3 separate regions of the Homo sapiens genome follow, and regions 2 and 3 are each linked to region 1. The links come from fine-mapping of genetic effects on gene expression. A gene starts in region 1. Each other region holds a variant in brackets. All regions are shown on one strand. Distances are from middle to middle.

Region 1 (8,190 bases):
TTTTTCCTCCACACTCACCCACCAACCCTTGGAATGCCAAGGGAGGGCTCCTCACTGCCCTCTACCAGCCATAGAACCTGAAAGCCACGAAGAGGCTCTGACCCTACCAACAGTACAGGCAGTGAAAAACAACCTTGGGATGTACTAATTATTAGAAAACTGAGGTTTGGGGAGAGAAAAGAGAAAAGGGTTGGCAAAATCAGAGAGGGGGATAAAAGAGTTAAAAGGCTAGAAAGATAAGGAAGGTAGTAACGTGAAACAAGGAAGGCCTTAAGTCCAATTCTCAACTCCGCCAAAACGTTTTGTGTACATGGGGTGTGTGTGTGTGTGTGTGTGTGTGTGTGTGTGTTTGGGTGTGTGTGTGTGTTTGCTTTTGGGGGAGGAAGGTTAGCAACCTAGGCAGAAACCTGGATAAGAAAGGAAATTGTTCTTGCCTTCCCATTCCTTCTCCTTCCAAAGCAGGAGACAACAGAGACACCTGCAGTGTTGGCTTCTGACTGGAGGACAATGACCCAGCTGATCCTTCTGACGTCTTACGTTCACAGAGAACAGCAGCCAACACATCCTGTGGCTCAAAAGCTGTAGCAGCATTTTTTATCTGGGATTACAAAATACAATGGTCTGGCACTTACAAAGTTCTCAAGAAATACTTGTTGATAGACAAACAAAGTAAACAGTCAACATGGGCAAAATGTTGATTATTGAAGCTGGGTAATGAGACTTAAATGTTCTGAAATAGAAACTTTTTAAAAAACTGCAGAAAAATCCAAATTCAAGTTTTGTGTGAAGTATATTTAGTAAATAGTAAACAGTTACTAAACATGAGATATATAAAATATCCCACATTTCTGAAGAGAATAAAAATATCAGAGTTGTCAAAGGCAGGTGTGTTTAAGTTCAGCACGATGACCTGGCACATGGGAAACATATAATAAATGCAAACCCTATATAGTACGTTTTTGGCTGGTCTTGGCTTTAAGCTTTGTACTCAACAGAGTCTAAAGCCATTAGAGAACAGAGGATCCCCCTCTAATGTGACCCAGTGCCTTTATATAGCAGTGGTTACTTGATGAGTCAAAAATTTAGTTTTTCATGAAATATATAGTAAAACCTCAATTAATTGGAAGGGGTTACTTTATCTGAGTATAGAAGTGGTAGCTAGAACCTCTGAGTAGAAGGATATTCATGGAATTGTTAATCTATGTTTTTTATGTATCCTTCTCTGTCTTTCTCCTCCCAACCATACTTAATTTCACTGGTGTCCCATAAACTAATAAAGAATTAAAGGAGCCACTGACAAGCAAGTTAACTTCAAATGAATAAGATAGACTAGATGCACTAGAGAACAGCTAGAGAAGTGGAGGAGGCTGTAATGCACAGTTACAGGAAGGATCAGAAAGCAGAAGGGAACTCAGCTGAGATCTTTTTGACCCTCACTTCCTTGGCCCTTATCATAGTTGGACAAGGCTACACACAAAAGTACCAGACATTTATTAGGGAGCCTGAAAAGAGGGTAAGGTGATTGGACATTGTGTGCAGGAGGGAAGGCACAGACTCCCACATCTCCAAGATGGAAACAAACAAAGCCAACCGGGAATTTCCCTGTGAGTCAGGGCAGTATTTGACACACCACCACTGTTTTATACCTGCTTGTTATAATCTTTGTTGTTGAAAGGCATGTCTACAGCCTACCATGCGGAGAATATGATTACATCTTCCCGTTACTGCCTGGATTCTTGCCCAGCCTCAAGGCCATTATTCTGACCATTAGTTCTTGTTGTACTTAACTGTTAATGGAGAAGAAGGTATGAGGATAGGAATTGAATACATCATTGAGCCTAGAATATACCCCCAGAAGTCAGTCATTTAACAAATTTTCAATAGGAATTCATGATTAAATCCACACTTCTTTAAAAATAAAATCATAGTTAACGAAGGGCTCATTATCTTTATTTTACAAGAGTGGATAACTGAGTATTACATTTCCACATTTTGCTAATTAGGTCTTTTCAATTATTTAAATGATGGTCTATATTCTAACATTTTGAAATGAAAATGGCAGAGGGGGTTAAGGGAGGAAGAAAAGTAAAGAATTTCAATTTGACTTGATTTATATTTAATTAATGTCTCTCCAGTACTAGTGAAATATTTTTATGTGAGAGATTTTAATAAAAAGTAAAAATATTCTAATGTACGAGAAAATACTGTATTATATAAACAATGATATATTACCTAAAAGCCCTCAAGTGAAAATTTCAAGTATAAAAACGTATAGAAATTAATACATGCAATTTAGATATTTTTATCTGTGTTAAATAAACAGTTCTAATACTCTGATTATCCTTCTAGGCTGAAAACAGAAGACTAGTCTGATAACAGAGAAAACACATCAAAGTGTGTTTAAGCAAGATATTTAAAAAGAAATAGTAATTTAATACTAAGGGCTACCATTTATCAAGAAATCTACTGTGATCTGGGAATAGTGACTACCTCTTTATGCACTTTCTATTATTTAATCCTCTTCATAACCCCATGAATAATGTATTTTTTACTTCTCATTGTTGAGAAAAGAAAATGTGATTAAATAACTTGCTGAAAGTCACATAACAAGTTATGAGCTATTCCTGGATATGAATATAAGTTTATTTTATTCTAAAGTCTATGTGTTTATATTGCCCACAGGTTACATGTTCTACAAGGACGGGTACCAGTCTAATTTGTTCTCCACTGGCCTATGCTATGTGTTCAATAAATATTAGTTAATTTATTCGTGCTTTTGATTGCTATAAAGAATTTTTTTTTTTTTAGACCAAGTCTTGCTCTGTTGCCCAGGCTGGAGTGCAGTGGCACCATCTCGGCTCACTGCAACCTCTACCTCCCAGGTTCAAGCGATTCTCCTGCCTCAGCCTCCCGAGTAGCTGGGATTACAGGCACGTGCCACCATGCCCAGCTAATTTTTGTATTTTCAGTAGAGACGGGGTTTCACCATGTTGGCCAGGTTGGTCTCAAACTCCTGACCTCAGGTAATCCACCCGCCTCTGCCTCCCAAAGTGCTGGGATTATAGGTGTGGGCCACCGCGCCCAGCCTGCCATAAAGATTTTATGATTTTTTAGCCATTTTTTTTAAAAATTGTGCATATACATTCCTAATTTTAGGAATTAGGAATAATAGGAACTAAAAGCCAAAAGGAGAAACTACATTTATAAACTCACACATTACAGCAAAAAGTATTTTTAAATAAAATCACTTGTTAAAGGTTATAAATTGCCAATTTATATTCACTAGGTAAGCTTTTATTTTCAAAAGGAACAAAGGCCTCTTCCCCATTTGAGCCCCAGTTTCTTAAACTGACCTGATTATGTGGCTAAGGTATTATTGTGAGGTATTGATGTTTTCTCCTGTTTTTCCTTCCCCTTCCTCCCCACCCCTTTTCCCCCTTTCCAGAGTTTTGTTCTGTGGCATTGCCTTGGGTAAGTACACGGCAGGGCAAATAGCAGAGTGACGGCAAATCTTTCAGATTTTCACTTTTTCAAAGTAAGAGAGACCGAACTGGGGCCATGAGAACAGAGACATCCAACTACTGTGTAATTCATAAGAGTTTAGAAATGACTCCTTGTGCACCCTTTTTCAGGCCCTTTTACAAATGGACTTTTCTCACTTGTGATGATCTGGGAGAGTGAGAGTGAGGAGAGTCTAAGAAGAGTTCAGGCTAATTATTTTCCCACTAATCTGGCATAGGAGAGGCTCACAGAGATTAAATTCATTATGGTAAATACAAAGAGTAATACTGCTTTACACTCGGGTCTGTAGACTGAGATTCACACTCACCACAATTATTCCTGTTAACAGTCTGCCACATACCTTTCATTTTAAGCAACTGAAAAATTGTACCAACTTTTCTCTTTAAATTTGCTTTAAAAGCAAATTCAGAAAATTGGTAGAGGGTCAAGAAATTACACAGTCCAACTCCATTATTTGATAAATTGTATAAAAAGCAAACTAAGGCAAGAATCAACTGACTTCCAAAGTTCACGAAGAGAGCACTCTGGAAGTTGATAAACCACCAAACCATATAAATTCCACCACCTCTTTATCTGTAATTAAAAATCAAAGGTTGACTTTTTTTTTTTTAACTACTCACTGTATTTTTAGAAAGATGGGGCAGAACCACTGTAGAACTCCTAAACCCCACAGAACAAACAGTACATTCTGGAATGATACGCCGGCCAATCCGGCTGGCAGCCGATTGACCTGACCCAGGCGAGGGTTGCTGCACCGAGTATTTAGTTTGGCCCCCTACTGAATGAAGACACTTTGTTAAATTCTCCAATGAGAGACGCTTAGAGGTAGGGGCGTGGAAGGGGGCCGGGGAATTTGAGGCCAGATAACGGGAAGTGTGAGCCGATTGGCCGGACTTCTCACTCCACGGCCCAGCCGTTTACGGATCGCGGAGGCCATCCATCAAAAGAATTACACCAATCAGCGGCGAAAATGCCCCCTTCTCGCGAGAAAGCCCCGCCCTCCAATATATTCCTCGTTAGGGCAGGCGCGGCCCCTTCGGCTCCGAGCTGACCCTGATCAGGGCCGAGTTGTCTCGGCGGCGCTGCCGAGGCCTCCACCCAGGACAGTCCCCCTCCCCGGGCCTCTCTCCTCTTGCCTACGAGTCCCCTCTCCTCGTAGGCCTCTCGGATCTGATATCGTGGGGTGAGGTGAGCAGGCCCGGGGAGGGTGGTTACCGCTGAGGAGCTGCAGTCTCTGTCAAGGTGAGTGGGACTGCGCGGGAGTTGACCGCCAGGTGCGGGTGGGGAGCTGGGTTGGGGGCGCGGGGCGAGGAGTAGGTCTGGCCCGCGCCCTTTTCCACACTAAACTCTACCGCTGTTGTGAGCACAAGCCCAGGCTAGTCCGAGGCTGGAGGGGCGGAGCCGGATCCGGCCTCCTGAGGTGCCTTTCGTGTCTGCCGACCCAGTCCCAGGGACTAGCCTGGGGAGGAAGAATGGAACCCCTGCAGTTAGAGGTTCCTCACATGACTAGCTCTGAAGACCTCCTGCCTTCCTGTCTTTAGTTGGTGTGGGAGGGACCTTCCATGTATCCAGGGCTTAGCTTGTGCCCGGGACATGGTTGTGTTATGCACACTTAAATCAATGGAATTCCCAGGTTCATCTTTCAGACTAGGTTAGCAACAACCCACCGCACCCCCCCGCCCCAATACGTGCTCCTAATGTCACCTTTTAAGTTTCCTTTCCTAACAACAATAAAAGTTAAGTAATATTGAGTATTGTGTGCCAAGCACTGTGCTATACTCTTTAAGTGGTGAATCATCTTGTTCAGTCTTCACATTCAGCGACAGATATTGTTACCCTCATTTTATAAATCTAGAAAGAAGCTCAAGCTCATTATTATTGTTCAGTGTTTTTTAAGCGTCTACTGTATGTGCTAAGCTCTTTACGTGATTTCATTTTAACTCACAAATCTGTGAGGTAGGTCATAAACCTTATCCCTACTTTATCAATGTGGAACTAAGTACAATTAAGTAACTTGAACAGTTCATTTTGTTAATATGTGGCAGAATACTTAACTACCATCTGCTTTTCACTTTCGGTATCCTGTCTTACGGTGTTTATTCGTGGTTATCTATTGACAGTGAATAACTTGAACAAGTATTTCTTGAAGATTTGCATTTTATTTTTCTAAAAAGCATGGTTCCGACCGGGCGCGGTGGCTCACGCCTGTAATCCCGGCACTTTGGAAGGCCGAGGCGGGCAGATCACAAGGCCAGGAGACCGAGACCATCCTGGCCAACATGGTGAAACCCCGTCTCTACTAAAAATATAAAAATTAGCTGGGCGCGGTGGCGCATGCCTGTAATCCCAGCTCCTCGGGAGGCTGAGGCAGGAGAATCGCTTGAACCAGGGAGTCGGAGGTTGCAGTGAGCCAAGATCGTGCCACTGTACTCCAGCCTGGCAACAGAGCGAGACTCCTTCTCAAAAAAAAAAAAAAAAAGCATGGTTCCTTCCCTCTAGGAACTCAATTTAGGATGTGACCAACTTGTAGAAGGGAAATAAATAACAGATGGCACTTTGCAATGACTTAGATGCACTAGCCGCATTGGGGGATGGGAGGCTTATAAATCATTTCTTGGCCCAGTGCAAAGATGGCCAAGGAAAGCAGGAAGGACTACTCTTACACTCCTTGCTGGTCTTTTTTTCTATATATAGATGATAGAGGTACTGACAACAACTGACTCTCAGAAACTGCTACACCAGCTGAATGCCCTGTTGGAACAGGAGTCTAGATGTCAGCCAAAGGTCTGTGGTTTGAGACTAATTGAGTCTGCACACGATAATGGCCTCAGAATGACTGCAAGACTAAGGGACTTTGAAGTAAAAGATCTTCTTAGTCTAACTCAGTTCTTTGGCTTTGACACAGAGACATTTTCTCTAGCTGTGAATTTACTGGACAGATTCCTGTCTAAAATGAAGGTATGTTTGAAGCTACATTTTTGTAATTTTGCTCAGTGTGTTTTGGAGATGGAATTGTTACCTTTTGGCTGGTATTCATAAACTTGACCTTTTTTTTTTCAGCACGTAGCCAAAACATTAATTTTGTCTACTACAGCATTAATATTTCTTATCATAATCAAGAGTAGTACATCAGGTATTAGACTTAAATTCTGAAATGAAAAATAGTCTAATATCAAGTAACAAATTGCAGTTTCCTAGTAAGAAAATTGGCTGTTTTTAAAAAACCCTTCTTGATAGGTTGGATTTGTCCATTTATTTACTATTTTTAGATATAAACAAATTTATTAGTGGCAGAAATTTATTAGAGGCTACATTGTGGCTAAGAATTAAGATATATTTGTTAATCACTACCCATATATAAAATTGTAAATGTTTTAGCCTTAGACCTAGTCAAGACTTGCTTATGCTTGGCATTTCCAGCTTCAGTGTACATGCAGTAGGGAGGAGAGTGTGTCTGAAGGAGGAGCAACTATTTTCCTATACTAGATAAACAAGACTGTCACTTTCAGAGCTTAACTGTTACAAATGCATCTGCCTTTCCTGTACACCCATGGTCACTGGAGGAAAATAAGATGATGTGACAATTGGAAGGAAACTCATATTTTAGTCCTCGGTATCTAACACAGTGCATCATAAAAAAGGACTTCAATATTTGTTGAAGATTCAAGAAATTTGCTTCAACAGACTAATTAAGCTCTTTAGACATTTCACATGTAGTCATTACCTTTGAATCTGTAAATGTTGCACAAATGAATAATATACAGCTATTCCTCAGGTATAATTCAGTCTTATGTGAGAATAAGATCGTTGCTCTTATGTACAAGTCATAATAAGAAAAATAACTACATTATGCCTTTAAAGAGGCATAAGTGTACTGCTGAAGAGTTTACAAGAAGAGAGAGAGCACAGAGATATTAATACTGGTAAAAGCTTAGTTTCATGTGAGCTGGAAGTAAACTGGATAAAGTTTTGACTGTGTCTCATACGGCAGACATTCAGAAAATTAAATGATAAAGATTAGTAGTGGATAGAACTCTTAGAGGCAGAGTAAACAGTATATGCCATAGTATTTTAAAACTGTTTTATATGTGTTCCCACAAAGACAAGAGCCTGGAAAAAATACAACATCCTGCAAAGAAATGGCTTATTTTGTAAATAAGCCATAAAGTATTTCAGTCCTCATATATCTTTGACTAGTTAACTTATTTGATCAAACTAGAACAATGTTTACTTATAGTTCTACAGTGATTAATAAAAACACACTTTTTCTATGCTGAGCCAAACATTATACTGAAACTCAGTCCAGTTACTCAAAAATTGGTTCTAAGTGGGGTCCATAGTGTTGACAGGCTATAGTTTAGGTATGAGTGGATTGTGTTAAGTCCATCACAGCTGAGAAATAAACCTCAAATATACATTTTCAAAATGTTGGGTCGGAGTTCTAGATTATCCTTTATGTTTTAATTGAAATAAGGTAGAGTCATGGGCTTACTGGTTTTGTTTTTGATTTTTTAGGTACAGCCCAAGCACCTTGGGTGTGTTGGACTGAGCTGCTTTTATTTGGCTGTAAAATCAATAGAAGAGGAAAGGAATGTCCCATTGGCAACTGACTTGATCCGAATAAGTCAATATAGGTTTACGGTTTCAGACTTGATGAGAATGGAAAAG
Region 2 (8,190 bases), 210 kb before region 1:
TAAACTGTGAAGTTTTTGAAATCATTCTTTTCCCACATCAAGTGCTACAAAAATCCTTTTCCCACAATCACAATAACACTTTACCTTTGTTTTTATTAAGACGAGTAAGTCTTTTTCTTCTTTCTGAAGACTGGCTAACACTGAAGAAAATATGTTTTTCTTATACCCTACATGCATTCAAAGAAAATTATATTTTTTAAAATTTATTGATACTGGTGTAACAACCACAAAACTTAAAATGTTATTATAGTAGGCACTGGGGTGTCTAGAATGCTTGGAAACTACAACCTAATTGGCAGGGTTGTAGATCATAGAGTGTCAATAAGAGCAAAGGTTCCCTGAAAATCACAGAGTGTCAATGAGAAAACGGTTCCCAAACATCAAAAAGCTAGTGAAAACTGTCTCCTCATTAGTAACTTCAGTTGCTTATGGGATATGGGTTGTTATGGAAACTGCAGTAAGAATGAGAAAAAAATTGGGAGACAGAAAAATATTGTCATAATGGGCAGGAGCTCATCTATAAACTCTTTTTTTTTTTTTTTTTTTTTTGAGACAGAGTCTGTCTCTGTTGCCCAGGCTGGAGTGCAGTGGCGGGATCCCAGCTCACTGCAACCTCCATCTCCTGGGTTCAAGCGATTCTCCTTCCTCAGTCCCCCAAGTAGCTATATTACAGGCGCGAGCCACCACAGTCCAACTAATTTTTGTATTTTTAGTAGAGACAGGGTTTCACCATATTAGACAGGCTTGGCTTGAACTTTGGACCTCAAGCAATCTGTCCACTGCGCCTCCCAAAGTACTGAGATTATTACAGGTGTGAGCCACCGCACCTGGGCTTCTATAAACTCTTCATAAAACCTTTCTTCTTTGAGTTATCAGGTGCCAGTTTGATCTCATGTTATCATCAAATTCAAAATGTCTTTCAAGGTTGTAGGAGTGAGTCCGATCTCTAGCTTTACCTTTGTCTCTCCAGAATTCTTAAGAGCCTGAGTTACAGGGTATTGGGGCAAGTTTTATGGTATTAGTAACAGATTGATCTTATTTAACAAGTTTAGGGGATTACAAAGATCTTGCTGTACATGCTAGTACATACATCCCATGTCTCATAAGCCTCTTAATTCTCTACCCAAGGGTGTCTTTTACTATTATAATGAGCATAATAAGTCAGCCCAAAGACACTAATCATGGGTTTCTGCAGTTGCATGAATTTGGGGATTTTCCCTTCTGCTCTTTTACCTCCTTGCTGCAAAGTGTTCAACCATGAGCCCAGAATGCAGTTCATACACTGCAGAGTGGATTGTTATCTCCATTTATTTGGCAGGTTTGCTCCCCTTTAAGAGACACTATGACCACCTTATCTAACCTACTTCAAGAGGAGGCATCTCTCACAGAAACTTTGTATCTCTCAATAAGCGTGTCTCCTCTCATTAAAGGTAAAGAAGTGCAAGCCTCTGTGTTCACTGAGTGTTCATCTAAATTACATCTAGTCTGCATTTTCATGACATCAAAAATGACTTACTTGTTTTTCACTACAGCATATTACCTCCTGGTGTTTTCACCAGGTGTTTTTAGATGTCACTGTTACTGTTACTATCATTTTTGAGTGGCTGTTTTTCAAATCATGAAGGTAGTTGTAAGATAACTACCTTATAAGCCATAGGCATTTGCATTTATTTCAATCTTTTTGGCTACCTAGGAAAAACAATACTTTAGTCCAAAGAGCTTTGAAGTCGATAGACTTAAATAGAAATCTAGACGTTGTCACTAACCAGCTATGAACGAACATTGGGCAATTTCCTTAACCTGAGCCTTTACCCTGAGACTGTTAAGTACAAAATCTTTGACAAAAATTCTGGAAGAAAAAAAAAACTCCATAGATTATAAATAAAATTAAGGCCAAGTATTAAAAAAAAGAAAATTCTGGAAGAACATAGCATGGTTGTGGCCCCAGGACATTTCTTAGAAATCGTACATTTTGAGTAGTGGGAAGATGAAAGTAAAAATAAGCCTTTTTAACAGATTTGCCACTGAAATTATCAATAGTCAGGTACTTTGTAGAACAAGTTTATTACTATGTGGACTTGTTACTTGAGTGACATTCAGGTATCAAAAAGTCACAGAAATGTTATCTCATGGGCACTAAGAGTCATTTTTCATGTGTGTCTGTTTTTAAAGTTTAAACAATTAACAGTACTCAAGTGACAGAGACTCATGAAAGATGACAGTCTATCAGCACTTCTCAACAAGGATTCCAGGAGAGCATTAAGCCCTGATGGCCCAAGACATCCATCATATTTAATGAATTAACCTATCTCCTGTGTATATAGAATATTACTAGCATACCATCCTCGGGAAAACTGAGAAAAGAATAGCCTGATCATGGCTTAATTTCCTCACAGAACACCAGTAAATGAAAGCTGATAGCTACGGGGTTGAAGGACCTAGGATTTAGTCACATTTTCCTGACAAGGCCTGTAAATGCTCTACTCTCTGTCTCAAGGATCATCTTGTTGCCTATGATAGATAATAAACAAGGTCATACATATCTCACTAGTCAATTTTGGGTTTTTACCCAACATTTTATTCTTTAAAAGATTTAGACTAACAGAGTTATTTAGTGTTTCCAGTTGTGTGTTTTATTTAGCAAGTGAGTAAAAATACTGGAATATTGAAGTATTTGCATAAAAAAGGAAACGGTATTGTTTTGTAATCTCTGTTTTATTTCCTACTAAAGTTTTATATGTAAAAAAAAGCCTATGGAGTGTGAATTAGAGACAGACTAGGACAAGGCTATAAAGATACCACAGAATCGTCACAGCTCTAGAGTCAGACACCTACTAGCTATGAAACTTGGGACAACAATTTAATTTTCTGAGTTTTAGTTTACGTGTAAAATGAGTATAAGTAATAACTTCTTCATAAGGCTGATGAAAGGATTAAATGCAAAAAACCTGGTTAAGTGTTTAAATTCAAAAGAAACTCATTAAACAACAGTACATATGATTTATTCTTACTATTACATCTAATTCTCAAAGTCTTCCAGAAGAAAGAACTATCCTGCTTTAAATGCAGCATACCTACCCATCAGAGCCCCAGTGAGTAGGATACCTAGAAGACAGGAATTGGCTTGGAAACGGAGAAAGTAATTGGGAATATCTTTTGGCTTTTCAGTAAGTCAGAGAGTCAAATAATTCAAAGATTTAAAAGGATTAAGAGTCACTGCTCTTATCATCCCTTGCTGGAAAAATAATGTGATTTACTAATACATGAATTTCTAAAATAATGATTCAAATCTAAGTAGAAAAACTGGAGTATATGGGTTTCCAGAGAATGAAGAATTGGATGTTCAAGAAAATTTCATTGGTAATTAGGGAAATGCAAATAAAGTAACAATAAAATATGATTTTTTACACATCGGTCAGTAAAAAGTAAAAATAAGTAATAAATGTCTATATTTGACAAGGGTATGGAGACCAAAACTGTGGAAGTAGAAATTGGTGCAGCCTTTTTAGAGGGTAATTTGGCATCTATTCTATATGTGCATGTCTTTTTACTCAGAATTCCACTTCTATGAATCTACGCTACAGGATTCTGACCTGTTCAAAGATAAACATTCTAAAATATTATTATTTCTTTTTGTAATTAAAATGAAACAAAAATTTTACCAATAGGAAAATATGTATATTAATCATGATTATGCTATGCTACAGATGCAATGCAACCATTTTACATCACAAAACAATTTCTATATGCTGGTTTGGATAGTCATCCCAGATATATCACTAATTGAAAAAGAAAAGAAAAAAATAAAGCAAGTTCCAAAACAATCTTCAGAGTATGATATTATTTATTTATATACATATATGTATATATAGCATTGGGAATCATGTGTGTGCACATGTGTGTACAAATGCACCCTATCCACATGAATGATTTACACACCCTATCCACATGAATGATTTAAATATGTTAAATAGTAGAATGTAAAAATTATTAACTCCCCTTTTATGACCTTCTCTCAATCCCTTCCCTTCTCCAAAGAGAATCACTATCATCTGTCTGGCATATATCTTGCTCTTTCTCTCTCTCCCTCTGTCTCTGTGTGTGTGTGTGTGTGTGTGTGTGTGTGTGTGTGTGCGCGCATGGCATTCCCAATGCTATATCTATAGCATATATATATGCTATATTATAATATATAATATGTATATGCTATACATAAATTGCTTCCACTAAACTGAGAACTCCTTGAGGCCAGAGGCTATAAGTATTTTAATATTCTCTCAATACCAGGCAACTCACACTGATTTAAACACTGATAGTATTAAGTCTGTTTGTTCATGATTTAAATTTGTTTAATTTAAATTGAGGACATTCATGTTGTATATATAAATATTATATATATATGCTAGATTCCCAATGCTATTAGTAATTTTTACACTCTACTATTCCACATATTTAAATTTCCCATCAAACACACATTACTGTTGTGAACAAGTATTTTAAATCACCAAACATGGTGGCCGTTGCCCGTCATCTCA[A/G]CATTTTAGGAGGCTGAGGCGGGAGGATTGCTTGAGACCAGGAGTTCAAGACCAGCCTGGGTAACATAGAGAGACTCCATCTGTACAAAAAAATAAAATTTTATCCAGGCAGGTTGGTGCATGCCTGTAGCTACTGGGGAGGCTGAGGCAGGAGGAACGCTATAGCCTGGGAAGCCAACGCTGCAGCAAGCCATGATTACACCACTGCACTCCAGCCTGGGCAATAAAGAGAGATTTTATCTGTCTCCAAAAAAACAAAAAGAAGTATTTTAAATAACTGCTAAGGAATTTAATATCTGTCTTTCTCATCTGGTCCAGGAACAGCCCTGGAAGTTTGATCTAATAATCAAAACTTCTTCTTCTAGATTAATCCTCTACTATAAATTAATCAGGTAGCAAAAATAGAGCTAAAGCAAAAAACAATAGATATGTTAGGAGAGTTATAAAAACTACAAAATGAATGTCCTTAATTTAAATTCAACACATTTAAATCGTGAACAAACAGACTTAATACTAGCAGTGTGTAAATCAGTGTGAGTTGCCTGGCATTGAGAGAATATTGAAATACGGATAGCCTCTAGCCTCAAGGAGTTCTCAGTTTAGTGGAAGAAATTTCTGTATAGGCAGACATTTTCAATATCCTGACATAAATTCAGTGCTTAAGGGTACTCTCAAAAGTTTTAAAAACAATAAGAAGGAGTCCCAGAAAGGAAGTCTGGATAATGTTTGCTCCTAGACTCTAAGGATTAATCTCTTTAAGAACTAAGGCTCTTATCCATCTGACTGCAAATAAGCCAAATTGAAATAAATAAACAAATAGGCAATGACTCCTTAATAACTGTCCTATATATTTCAATTTATTGTTTTCCTTAAGAAGTTAAAAAATTAGGTATCTATGCAAATACCATATTATGTTTTAGCTATGAACAAATTAGAAGATTTAGGATTGCATCATTTATTTATTTATTGCTGGATACCCACCAACAATAGCCACAGACAATTACTTAGTCATGTATAATATACAGAGTACCTATGTGTACATCATTTCATTTTATCTTTACAACTTTCGTGTTAGGCAGGAAGAATTTTCCCCGTTGTACACATTAGGAAATAGAGATTCAGAGATATTAAAATAGACTGTTCTTAGCCAGTGCAATTATGCCATAAATGGGGCATTTTTCTCTATCCTGAAGAAGATTCTAGATTTGCAAATACCATATTTAACAATTAGGCAAAATATAACAAAGTGTTCCTGTTTTCTCCACTATTAACTGCAGGACCTTTTTAGACCATGCTGATATGATTACAGTAATTATCATGGTAACAAGAATGGAACATATTGTAAGATAAGGGAAAATATCGACCTAAACTTTCCTTAGAACTCCTAGAAGTGCTCAAAATGGCACCTTACACTTTTCAGATCAGAGTTCTCTTCATGTAATTGCTTTCTCCATCCAAAGCACTTTTAGTAATTTAATTTTTCACGTCCATGACTTAGTTCAGTAAGATACTGCCTCAGCAACGAGACTTTCAGGAAATTCGGCACAAATAGCTTATTTTTAAAAAGGAACTTATTGAAATCATACAACTGAAACTCCAAGAATATGTTTGCTTCAGGTATGTCTTGATCCAGGAGTTTAATAATGACATAAAGACGAAGACTCCCTTCATCTACTGGTTCCACTCTCCCAGAGTGCAAAATGGTTACCAGCAGTTCCAGACCACAGGCTTGCATGTTCAAATCCAGAAGGCAAAGTCCACATATCTTTTTCCTTAGCTGCTCACATAAGTTTTGTTGTGCCTTATTGGCTCTTATTGAGTGACATATTTATTTCTGAACTTTGGAAGAGTTCAGGAAAAAAGTGATACTTTGAATGGTTAGGCCTAAATCTCAAGTCAATCTTTTGAGCTGGGAATAAGTCAATGTCATGCAAAGCACACAAAATAAGGGAAAAAGGAGTGGATCCCAGAGGAAAATTAGTATACCCTTACCAGAGAAAGCTTAATAAATTCTGGATCACTAAAACAAGTCATTTATGACAATTTCTTATAGATCTGATATTAATACTCCAAGTACAATTTTATATTGACTGAAGGCTGATAATTTGTTTTGTGGCATAAAATTAAATAAGGGTAAGGAAAGGTGCTATTGATTAAGTTTCCTGGAGAACAGACTCTGAAATGGAAATTTGCAGGCATGAAGTTCATTAGGAAGTGATTTCAGTATCAACATTTGTAACAGAGTGAAAGAAGAATAAGTGAGCAGTGGGAAAAGTTGAACTCTGAAAAAGTTGGCCGCAGCCAATCCCTTGGAGATCTCTGAAACTAGCCTACTCTTCTAATAGTCTAGTCTTCTACATTGCCCTGAATTGAGGCAAGGGGAACAGGCCCTTACATTCTTGCTTTGTAATTGGATGTAGGTTACTCCTGAAGAGCAAATGTAAACTTGGGTGAGGCAAAGGCCTCCTGCCGAGGGCATTCTGTGGGAGGGTCTCAGCTGTGCCCTCTCAGCAGTTAACGCTTCCAGAAGCTGGTGGAATGAGTGCCTTGATACTGATGTGAGTGTTCTGGGCAGCACTCCACCACATTCTTGGGTCTACCCCTTGTTCCACCCATATCCATCAGTAGTAATTAAGTCCACCTCATCTGGGAATACTTCCTCCAGGATTTGGTCATTCTCTTCCTGGGGACACACACAAGTGAAAGGTTAGTGAGATAAATGACAATCCCTCCACCACTGCAGCTCTTCTCAGTGTCTCAACTGATATTCATCATCTCTTTCCTCTGTTACTAATTCTAGATTTCCCCCACACTCAGCACCTCTGCCAGTCTAAGCCCCAGGATGTAAGCCCCTGCCTACCACAGCTTTTTTATACTACAGTTACTGCACTTGTCGATTGATGATCACAAGTGGGTGGAGGTGTACCAAGAAACACCTAGTGGATCCTCTGGTGTTCACTGGAGGACAACAGTCCTACCCTCTTCTGATGATGAGGGTCAATTTTCACTACTACGTGCCTCCTTTACTTGCCTTCTGACTTCTTGGCACAAAGATTCTAATGTGTTTAAAACCTCAGCCATAAAATTTAATAGGATCCTTTCTGCGTCTCCTGGTGAAAGCACTCTCCCTCTGGGAGTCATAATCTCTAGACCCATACAGCCCAAAGTTGTAGGGATAAGAAAGACAAATTCTGTAATGGAATCATTGAAAGTGATGCGAAACTGGTCAATTCCTTCTACCACTTCTTTGGTTCCCAGACTTATGTAGTCTGGAATATTTATTAGGGATACAGCACATTATAATGGTTATTGATTAAGAACATATAGAATGTTCTGTGCCCTTACTAAGCTGCTCATTTATCACTCTGTCACTCTGGCAGGCCAGTATTTTCTGGATGGTGTGGTACAAGATAGAACAGTGGATATCATAGCTATGTGCTCAAAGTTACACTGTTTGCTGTAAAGTGGATTCCTTTGTCTGATGATGCATTATGTTAAATTCATATCCATGGACCAGATACTTCTAACCCCTTGGAGAGTGGAGCTAGCCTCAGCCCTATGAACAGGAAAACCTATATCATACCCAAAATCAATTCCAATCCCAGTCTACATGAATCTCTTCTCATTCCAGGGTGAGAGGTGTCCAATATAATCA
Region 3 (8,190 bases), 57 kb before region 1:
TTTTTCCGTATAAATTACCAAGTCTCAGGTATGTCTTTAACAGCAAACAAACTAATGCAGTTTTTTTGTTTGTTTGTTTTGTTTTTCATTCCTTGCCACCCTTTTATTCCACAATTCCATTCTATACTTCATCAGTTCCTAGGAACTTTTCCAATGTAGTCAAACAAATCACTCCTTAAGAGTAATGTTTCTATACCCTTTCTTTGATAATTTTACTTAATTCAATTGCTAAAATACCACTGGCATAATTTTATTCTTAAACTATTTTTATAATGCACAGCTATTGTTAGTATCTGGTGTTGTCCTTTTTTACTTAAGCTGATTATAAAACTAGAAGTCACTGTTTTTTAACATGGGAGGAAATATAACTTGCACTCACTAAAGTAATTAAATATTTGTATTGGGACATGGCAGATGTAATTAACCTCAACTCGAAATAGATTTAAACCTAAAATATTTGTGTAATGACTAATTACCTTAAAAAATAAAATTGCAATTATCTGACTCCATTACTCAATATGAGTACTTTTCCCGCTTAATTGCAAATAATGAACTAACCTGTCAATAATTGTACATAATAAAAGATGTCAGATCTGGAAGAGAGTAGAATTTGATACTGAAGTTTTTAACTTTTTAGAAGTATCTCTGTTTTCTTGCTCCAACTTAGGAAGAACATAATCACATTCGGATTTAGAATTTTGAGAAAGTTTAGGCAATTGCCTTTTGTTTAAGCCTTTTCAAGGTAAAACTATTTATTGTGTTGAAGAAATTAGAGGTCTGATGAATTTGAAACAAAGCATTGCTTTTGAATTCCTTCATGAATTTCATATCAGCATATAAAATTCCTACTAGATAATCCTGCATTTAAATGTGTAAACTTTCCTTGAAATAAACTTCCCAATACAAGCTATCATTATCGCTTTCAAAAGACCTTTGGGACACAGCTTGAAATTTTTGTATACTTTAATTGCTCAACCAAAAAAATATATACTTCAACCTCCAGCAGGCCACCACATTGCCTATCTTCAAGCAACATCATGGCATTCGGCACCTAGAAATGATGTTCCTAGGGCTGTGCTGCATGGGGGTGTGCAGTGCCCCTCACTTCAAGCAAACGCATGCTCCATTTAATCAAAATGTTCTACCAAGAGGCAACACTCAACAGATATTTGTTAATTCACTAGTAGTGCCTATAGCAGTAGGTTATTTGAATATTAGTGGAATATTAGAAGACTTAGATGCCAGAATTTCTTAATAATAAAAAGTATGAAGTGAGTAGATATTTGACAATCTTTGAATTCATTTCTTAGGGAAAGATTACCAAACAAGATTTGTAATTCAAATCCACAGTGTGATAGTAGGCATTGATCGCACAAATACAATAAACACCAAAATTCTGTTTTGCTCTTGGAGACCTAATTAATAACCACTTCAATGCCTAGCACAAAAGAAAGCTTTCTGCAAGTGCCTTCCTCTTAACGAAATATCGTCATAGACATCTTAATCTTTTCTTTCTCCTTTTACAATAATTTGGTATTATTATCAATATTGTTATTTTTTATGATGATTATACATTGGATTTGGAGACATCCAATAGCTTGACCAGGTCAGCAAGTGGTAGCCCCAAAACTGATATCCATGCCTTCTAATTCCAAGACTTGAGCACGTTCTATCCCAAACCTCAAATTCCATTTGAGTCATTCTTTAATTCTATAACCTGATTTCTAGTCACTTGAAAGTAAGAGCACAATGAAAAGAGAACTAGGTTACTTAAAACAATTGTGATAAAGAAAACTGCCAAAAATAAAGATATGCAAGTCTTTTTTCCCACCTACTGATTTGAAATTCTATAAAACAAAGGGCATGAAACAAGGAACCTACAGGTTGGCCTTTCTCATTAACAAACTTTTTCCCCTTCAGTAACTGGCAACAGTTTGTGGAGAAATAGAATAGTAGAACTGGAGGCATTCTTTAGAGTTGAAACTGATTCCAAAAACCTGAGTTCTCACCTCTGGGTCCCTCTTAAACTCCTCTACCCTTCACCTTCTCAGATCTCCTCCTGGGCCGAGATTCCCATGCCACAGCCTTCCCTAAGGAGGGGCTGTAGCACGTGATAGCTCAGAGACACCGCGGGCAGAAAGAAGGCACAGGGCTGTGGCCAGATGTGCCAGCAGGTTGGTGTTTAGGAAAAGAGGAGGCTAAGGGAAAGCACTGTTTTCCCAGGGAGCAGGCGCCAGCCCGGCTTCCTAGATTCCTCTTCCCTAAGTCCCTCCTGGCAACCCTTCAGTTTAGCACCCTCTTTATTCTCAGATCCTCCCACTCTCTAGATTTCATCCCTTCCATCCCTGGGCCCAAACTCTTTTTCAAAAGAAGTGCCAGAAAGCCCAGCTCTGTCTGCCTCTCCCCCGTTCCTACAAACTCTTTCCCTCTATTTTCCTGAACCCCCAGCCTGAGAACCGCATCCTCTGCCCTGGCCTCTCCACAGGCTGCACCTTATTCTCTCCTGGCCATTGCCTTCACCACTGACATGCATTCCTCATATACTTACCTCAGTTAAAAGGAAAGAGAGAGAGAGCCTTTTAAAAAAATATTAGAAATATTAGAATAATATTCTAATATTCTCTATATATAATTTCTATATATATTTCTATATATATTTATATATATATTTCTATACGTATATAATATTCTATATATATAATTTATTTCTAATAAAAAATATTAGAAATAAACAAATATTATGCCACATCTATAATAATGGGATATGACCAAAAAATGAAAGCTATGCACATAACTGAAGTCAGGAAACATTGAACTAACCTGTCTTCTTTGGAAATGAGAAAACTTAAAATCTAGTGATGCTACAGGAATTGCTCAAAGTCACAAAAGGGATTAGTACCAGAGGCTGAGCTATCCTTAGCATTTTTGCAGTGTGTCTCTGAAAGCAGAGATGCATTCAGAATAGCTGTGTTTATTCAACACAAAAAGACATAGCATGCCTATTATAAAGAGGCCCAGTTTCCCACTCATTTGGACACACTTTAATGTCCTTTGTTTAAAGACTTCCTAGCTTCTTCTATTCCCCCATTTTCAATCACAGCTTCAAACTGTAGAAAAGCTATTTGTTAAAATTTGGGGAAAGACCCCAGGGACACAGGCAGGTGAACAACACATACTGGGGCCTGTCACGGGGTACAATGGGAGGGAGAGCATCAGGAAAAATAGCTAATGCATGCTGGGCTTAATACCTAGGTGATCGGTTGATAGGTGCAGCAAACCTCTGTGGCACACGTTTACCTATGTAACAAACTTGCACGTCATGTGTATGTACCCCAGAGTTTAAAATAAAATAAAATTAAATTTAAAAAAAGGATTTGGGGAAAGAAATGTGGCTAGCAAAATATTACCTTCAGTAGGCCCTATTAGTATCTTTTGAATTTATTGGTATAAACACACACAACACACATACACAACAGCACCCACACACAACACACACACACACGACTCAGAGAGTTACCTCATTGATAGATTTAAGTAAGAAAAGAAAACTGCATCTTTTTTCTTGTGGTGAGAAAGAACTGAAATGGGGACTAAATCATAATGGGGCTCTTCAAAAATGCTGAACAACAATATTTGAAATTTTTATGCAGACCTCCAAATGCTGCAATCATCCCACTGTAAAAACTTAGTCAATTTTTTTTTCTAAGAAAGAAAGTAAAGATAATAAAGACCTGTTACCCAATTCTGAGCAGAAGCTGAGTCACTGTGTAAACACACTTCAACTACCGGCCTGCTTTCTCAAGGGTGAATCAATTGCTTTGAACAATGAAT[G/T]TACTGAGTTCTTTCCAATTTTATCCTGCAGAATAGTACCACTCATCATTGTTCTGTGAAAGCATGAATATAAAGAGTCAATATCTTCTGGGTTTGTTGGCTATCTTCTGTTTTGGAATTTGAATTTGTCCAGCAGGCCTACAAAAATGAGCAACAAAAAGAAAAGGAGAGTTCACATGGTGCCATGAAGGCACAAACGACAAGAGACTCGGAGACCTGGACTCCTTCTGTGGCCAAAACCACATAAAATCCCAAAGGCCGTGGAAAAAGAAAATTTACCAAATTATTCACACACACAAAAAAGCAATGAACTGACCGGGCATGGTGGCTCATGCCTATAATCCCAGCACTTTGGGAGGCCGAGGCAGGGGGATCACCTGAGGTCAGGAGTTCGAGACCAGCCTGGCCAACATGGTGAAACCCCTTCCCTACTAAAAATACAAAAATTCGCTGGGCATGGTGGCACGTGCCTATAATCTCAGCTACTCGGGAGGCTGAGGCAGGAGGATCACTTGAACCCGGGAGGCAAGGATTGAAGTGAGCCAAGACCACGCCATTGCTCTCCAGCCTTGGTGACAGAGCAAGACCCCATCCATCAGGACATAGGCATGGGCAAGGACTTCATGTCTAAAACACCAAAAGCAATGGCAACCAAAGCCAAAATTGACAAATGGGATCTAATTAAACTAAAGAGCTTCTGCACAGCAAAAGAAACTACCATCAGAATAAACAGGCAACCTACAGAATGGGAGAAAATTTTGGCAATCTACTCATCTGACAAAGGGCTAATATCCAGAATCTACAATGAACTCAAACAAATTTACAAGAAAAAAACAAACAACCCCATCAACAAGTGGGTGAAGGATATGAACAGACACTTCTCAAAAGAAGACATTTATGCACCCAAAAGACACATGAAAAAATGCTCATCATCACTGGCCATCAGAGAAATACGAATCAAAACCACAATGAGATAACATCTCACACCAGTTAGAATGGCAATCATTAAAAAGTCAGGAAACAACAGGTGCTGGAGAGGATGTGGAGAAACAGGAACACTTTTACACTGTTGGTGGGACTGTAAACTAGTTCAACCATTGTGGAAGTCAGTGTGGCAATTCCTCAGGGATCTAGAACTAGAAATACCATTTGATCCAGCAATCCCATTACTGTGTATATACCCAAAGGATTATAAATCATGCTGCTATAAAGACACATGCACATGTATGTTTATTGAGGCACTATTCACAATAGCAAAGACTTGGAACCAACCCAAATGTCCAACAATGATAGACTGGATTAAGAAAATGTGGCACATATATACCATGGAATACTATGCAGCCATAAAAAATGATGAGTTCATGTCCTTTGTAGGGACGTGGATGAAGCTGGAAACCATCATTCCAGTTTGCAATAGTAAACTATCTCAAGGACAAAAAACCAAACACCGCATGTTCTCACTCATAGGTGGGAATTGAACAATGAGAACACATGGACACAGGAAGGGGAACATCACACACTGGGGCCTGTTGTGTGGTGGGGGGAGTGGGAAGCGATAGCATTAGGAGATATACCTAATGTTAAATGACGAGTTACTGGGTGCAGCACACCAACATGGCACATGTATACATATGTAACTAACCTGCACGTTGTGCACATGTACCCTAAAACTTAAAGTATAATTAAAAAAATGCAATGAACTAATTTCACAGCCTTTCTTTTTCAACAAAACTCTGCTTTCAGGAAAAAACTAGAGCACTACTGTTCCACTGTCCCCTCAATCACTTAGTAACCAGCCTTAGGCAACTCATTTAAGCTTTATCAACTGCATCTTCCCCCCATGCACCTGTAAAATAAGATTGTGCTACTGATACCTACTGTTCATATGAGAATTAGATGAGATAATACATCTAAAGCATTTAGCAATATGCCTGGCATGAAGTAAGATCTCAAAAAATGACATCTATTATTTTGAGTATATGACAATGACATGTTGCTGAAAGATAGCTTGAAAATTAAATCAGCTTACATGTGGTGAGACATAAAGGGAAAGGTAAAAAGGGTTTTTTTTTTTAACAACAACAAAAAAAAAACAGGGAACAACATTCCCCTTTCTTTAGGATTTTGCTGAAGAATGATTCCAGGTTTAGAAATAGTCCGTCGCTAAGGCCAAAGGGTGTTTTCTTAACTATTCTCATAAAACTCAATCATTCCTCATACTCATGAACCCTTTATTGACCTAAGTAGACTACGGTTACCTTTGGCAAATAAATATTCTGGAGGCCCAATTAAATTTGAATTTCAGGTAAACAATGATTTTTAGTACAAGTACAGTATTCCATTAAATAGCTGAAACATATCTTTACTAAAAAATTATTAGTTATATGTCTGAAATGCAAATAAAATTGGGAATCTTGTATTTTATCTGAGAATCCCAATGAACACCTGGACTCCAAAAACCAGGAAAATCTAGATGGTGCACCCACAGCAACCCTCAAAGACCACAAGCGTGAGCCTGGGGGCTGATGAGAATACTTTTTTAAATTAGAATATCACATATACGTTCACTGGCTTGAGTGAGTTTTTTTCCTTGCAATCAAAAGGCTTGACTGCCAAAACACGTGTCTGTTTCAGCTTTTCTGTCTTAAAAGATGGAGGCGTAATACTCACCAGGCTCTTGTAAAGAGAAAATAGAAACTAAATATGAAAGTACTTTATAAACTAGGTTTTGGGGACTTCCGGGTAAAAATACTAGATTGAACACATGCTCCCTCCAGAAACCTTGCTAAAATAACAGGATAGAAATTGTTTAAGGCATGAACCCAAAAGGAAAGAGAACAAAACCCAAAAGGACAGAGAGGATACACCAGCAACAGCAACCCTCCCAAGGAGCAAGGCAGGTGAGTGAAGCTGTCTTGGACCTTCTAGATCAGACCAGCTAAATACCATTGAGTGACCATCAAACAACAGGCGAAGAGGAGCAAGCCCCCAGCTAAGTTCTATTCAAACCTTTAACCAAGAAGATGATGAGATAATAAAATAGTACTTGTCTTAACCCATTAATTTTGGGTGAATTATTACACAACACTGGAACACACAATAGAAGGCAGAATGGAATAGATGTCATTAAGACACAGGGCTATATAGGACACAGGTGGAGACCCATTGTTAACTAAACAAATTAGAGAAGAGTTCACAAAGATAGTGGTATCTCAGCTGGTCTTAAAGGATAAACAGGCTGGGCGTGGTGGCTCACGCCTATAATCCCAACACTTTCGGAGGCCAAGGCGGGAGGATCACTTGAGGTCAGGAGTTCGGGACCAGCCTGATCAATATAGTGAAACCCCATCTCTACTAAAAAATACAAAAATTAGCCGGGTGTGGTGGTGGGCACCTGTAGTCCCAGCTACTCAGGAGGCTAAGACAGGAGAATTGCTTGAACCCAGGAGGCAAAGGTTGCAGTGAGCCGAGATCGCACCACTGCACTCCAGCCTGGGCAATAAGAGCAAAACTCCGTCTCAAAAAAAAAAAAAAAGAAGAAGAAGAAAAGAAAAGTGAAAGTTTCGCCAGGTGCAGTGGCTCACGCCTGTAATTCCAGTACTTTGGGAGGCCGAATTGGGCAGATCACCCTAGGTCAGGAGTTCAAGACAAGCTTGGCCAACATGGCGAAATCCCGTCTCTACTGAAAATACAGAAATTAGCTAGATGCAGTGGCATGTGCCTGTAGTCCCAGCTACTTGGGAGGCTGAGGCTGGAGAATCACTTGAACCCGGGAGGTGGAGGTTGCAGTGAGCTGAGATCACACCACTGCACTCCAGCCTGGGCGACAAGAGTGAGACTCCATCTAAAAACAGAAAGAAAGAAAAGAAAAGAAAGGAAGGAAGGAGGGAAGGAAGGAAGGGAGGGAGGGAGGGAGGGAGGGAGGAAGGATGGACAGAAAGGAGGGAGGGAGGGAGGAGAGGGAGAAGGAAGGAAGGAAGGAAGGAAGGAAGGAAGGGAGGAAGGAAGGAAGGAAGGAAGGAAGAAAGTTTCTTTCCCCCAATCCCTCCTTATTAGTATGTAAAATCCCAGGGAAAGCCTCTGACTGGCTAACTTGTCCATGTCCCCTCCCTTAGACCAATCATTGTTACCAGCTGATAGGGTAATATTATTGGCCAGTGCCCAAAAACTGAGTTAATATAATCTACAGTCCCAACAGAATCACTAGTTATGAAGGAATGACAGTTCCTACTAACGATAAAGGAACAGTGCTGTAAATCAGAATCAGGATGAAAATATTATAGGGCCGATTAAAAATAAAACCAAACAGGCCAGGCGCAGTGACTCATGCCTGTAATCTCAACACTTTGGGAAGCCAGG

Alleles and levels. Positions count from the first base shown, and alleles are read on the strand shown. Sizes are in standard deviations (SD) of each study's normalised expression. Not every link is listed here.
For the expression in spinal cord of the gene that starts at base 4,555 in region 1, allele G in region 3 goes with a higher level than allele T (small effect, 0.35 SD a copy in GTEx).

What was found. PIP is the estimated chance that this variant, and not a neighbour inherited with it, causes the effect. A credible set is the group of variants that fine-mapping cannot tell apart.
Region 2: its variant is the best candidate, but not a certain one, in a credible set for the expression of CCNG1 in whole blood (INTERVAL, PIP 0.89).
Region 3: its variant is the best candidate, but not a certain one, in a credible set for the expression of CCNG1 in spinal cord (GTEx, PIP 0.55).

The regions. Positions count from the first base shown.
Region 1 is chr5:163,433,041-163,441,230 of GRCh38, forward strand. It overlaps CCNG1 (cyclin G1), which reads left to right and starts at 4,555. Exons shown (of 7, transcript NM_004060.4): 1 at 4,555-4,764; 2 at 6,217-6,480; 3 at 8,038-8,190. The coding sequence starts at 6,217. It also overlaps a transcript of LOC105377700 not described here. RefSeq lists enhancers at 4,160-4,209, 4,651-5,228, 4,920-5,119 and a silencer at 4,400-4,479.
Region 2 is chr5:163,222,854-163,231,043 of GRCh38, forward strand. The region is part of intron 2 of LOC105377700 (a long non-coding RNA gene); the gene reads right to left. Among named protein-coding and RNA genes, the nearest start is that of CCNG1, 210 kb to the right of the region's middle. The variant A/G (reference allele first, on the strand shown) is at 4,536.
Region 3 is chr5:163,375,988-163,384,177 of GRCh38, forward strand. The region is part of intron 1 of LOC105377700 (a long non-coding RNA gene); the gene reads right to left. Among named protein-coding and RNA genes, the nearest start is that of CCNG1, 58 kb to the right of the region's middle. The variant G/T (reference allele first, on the strand shown) is at 3,832.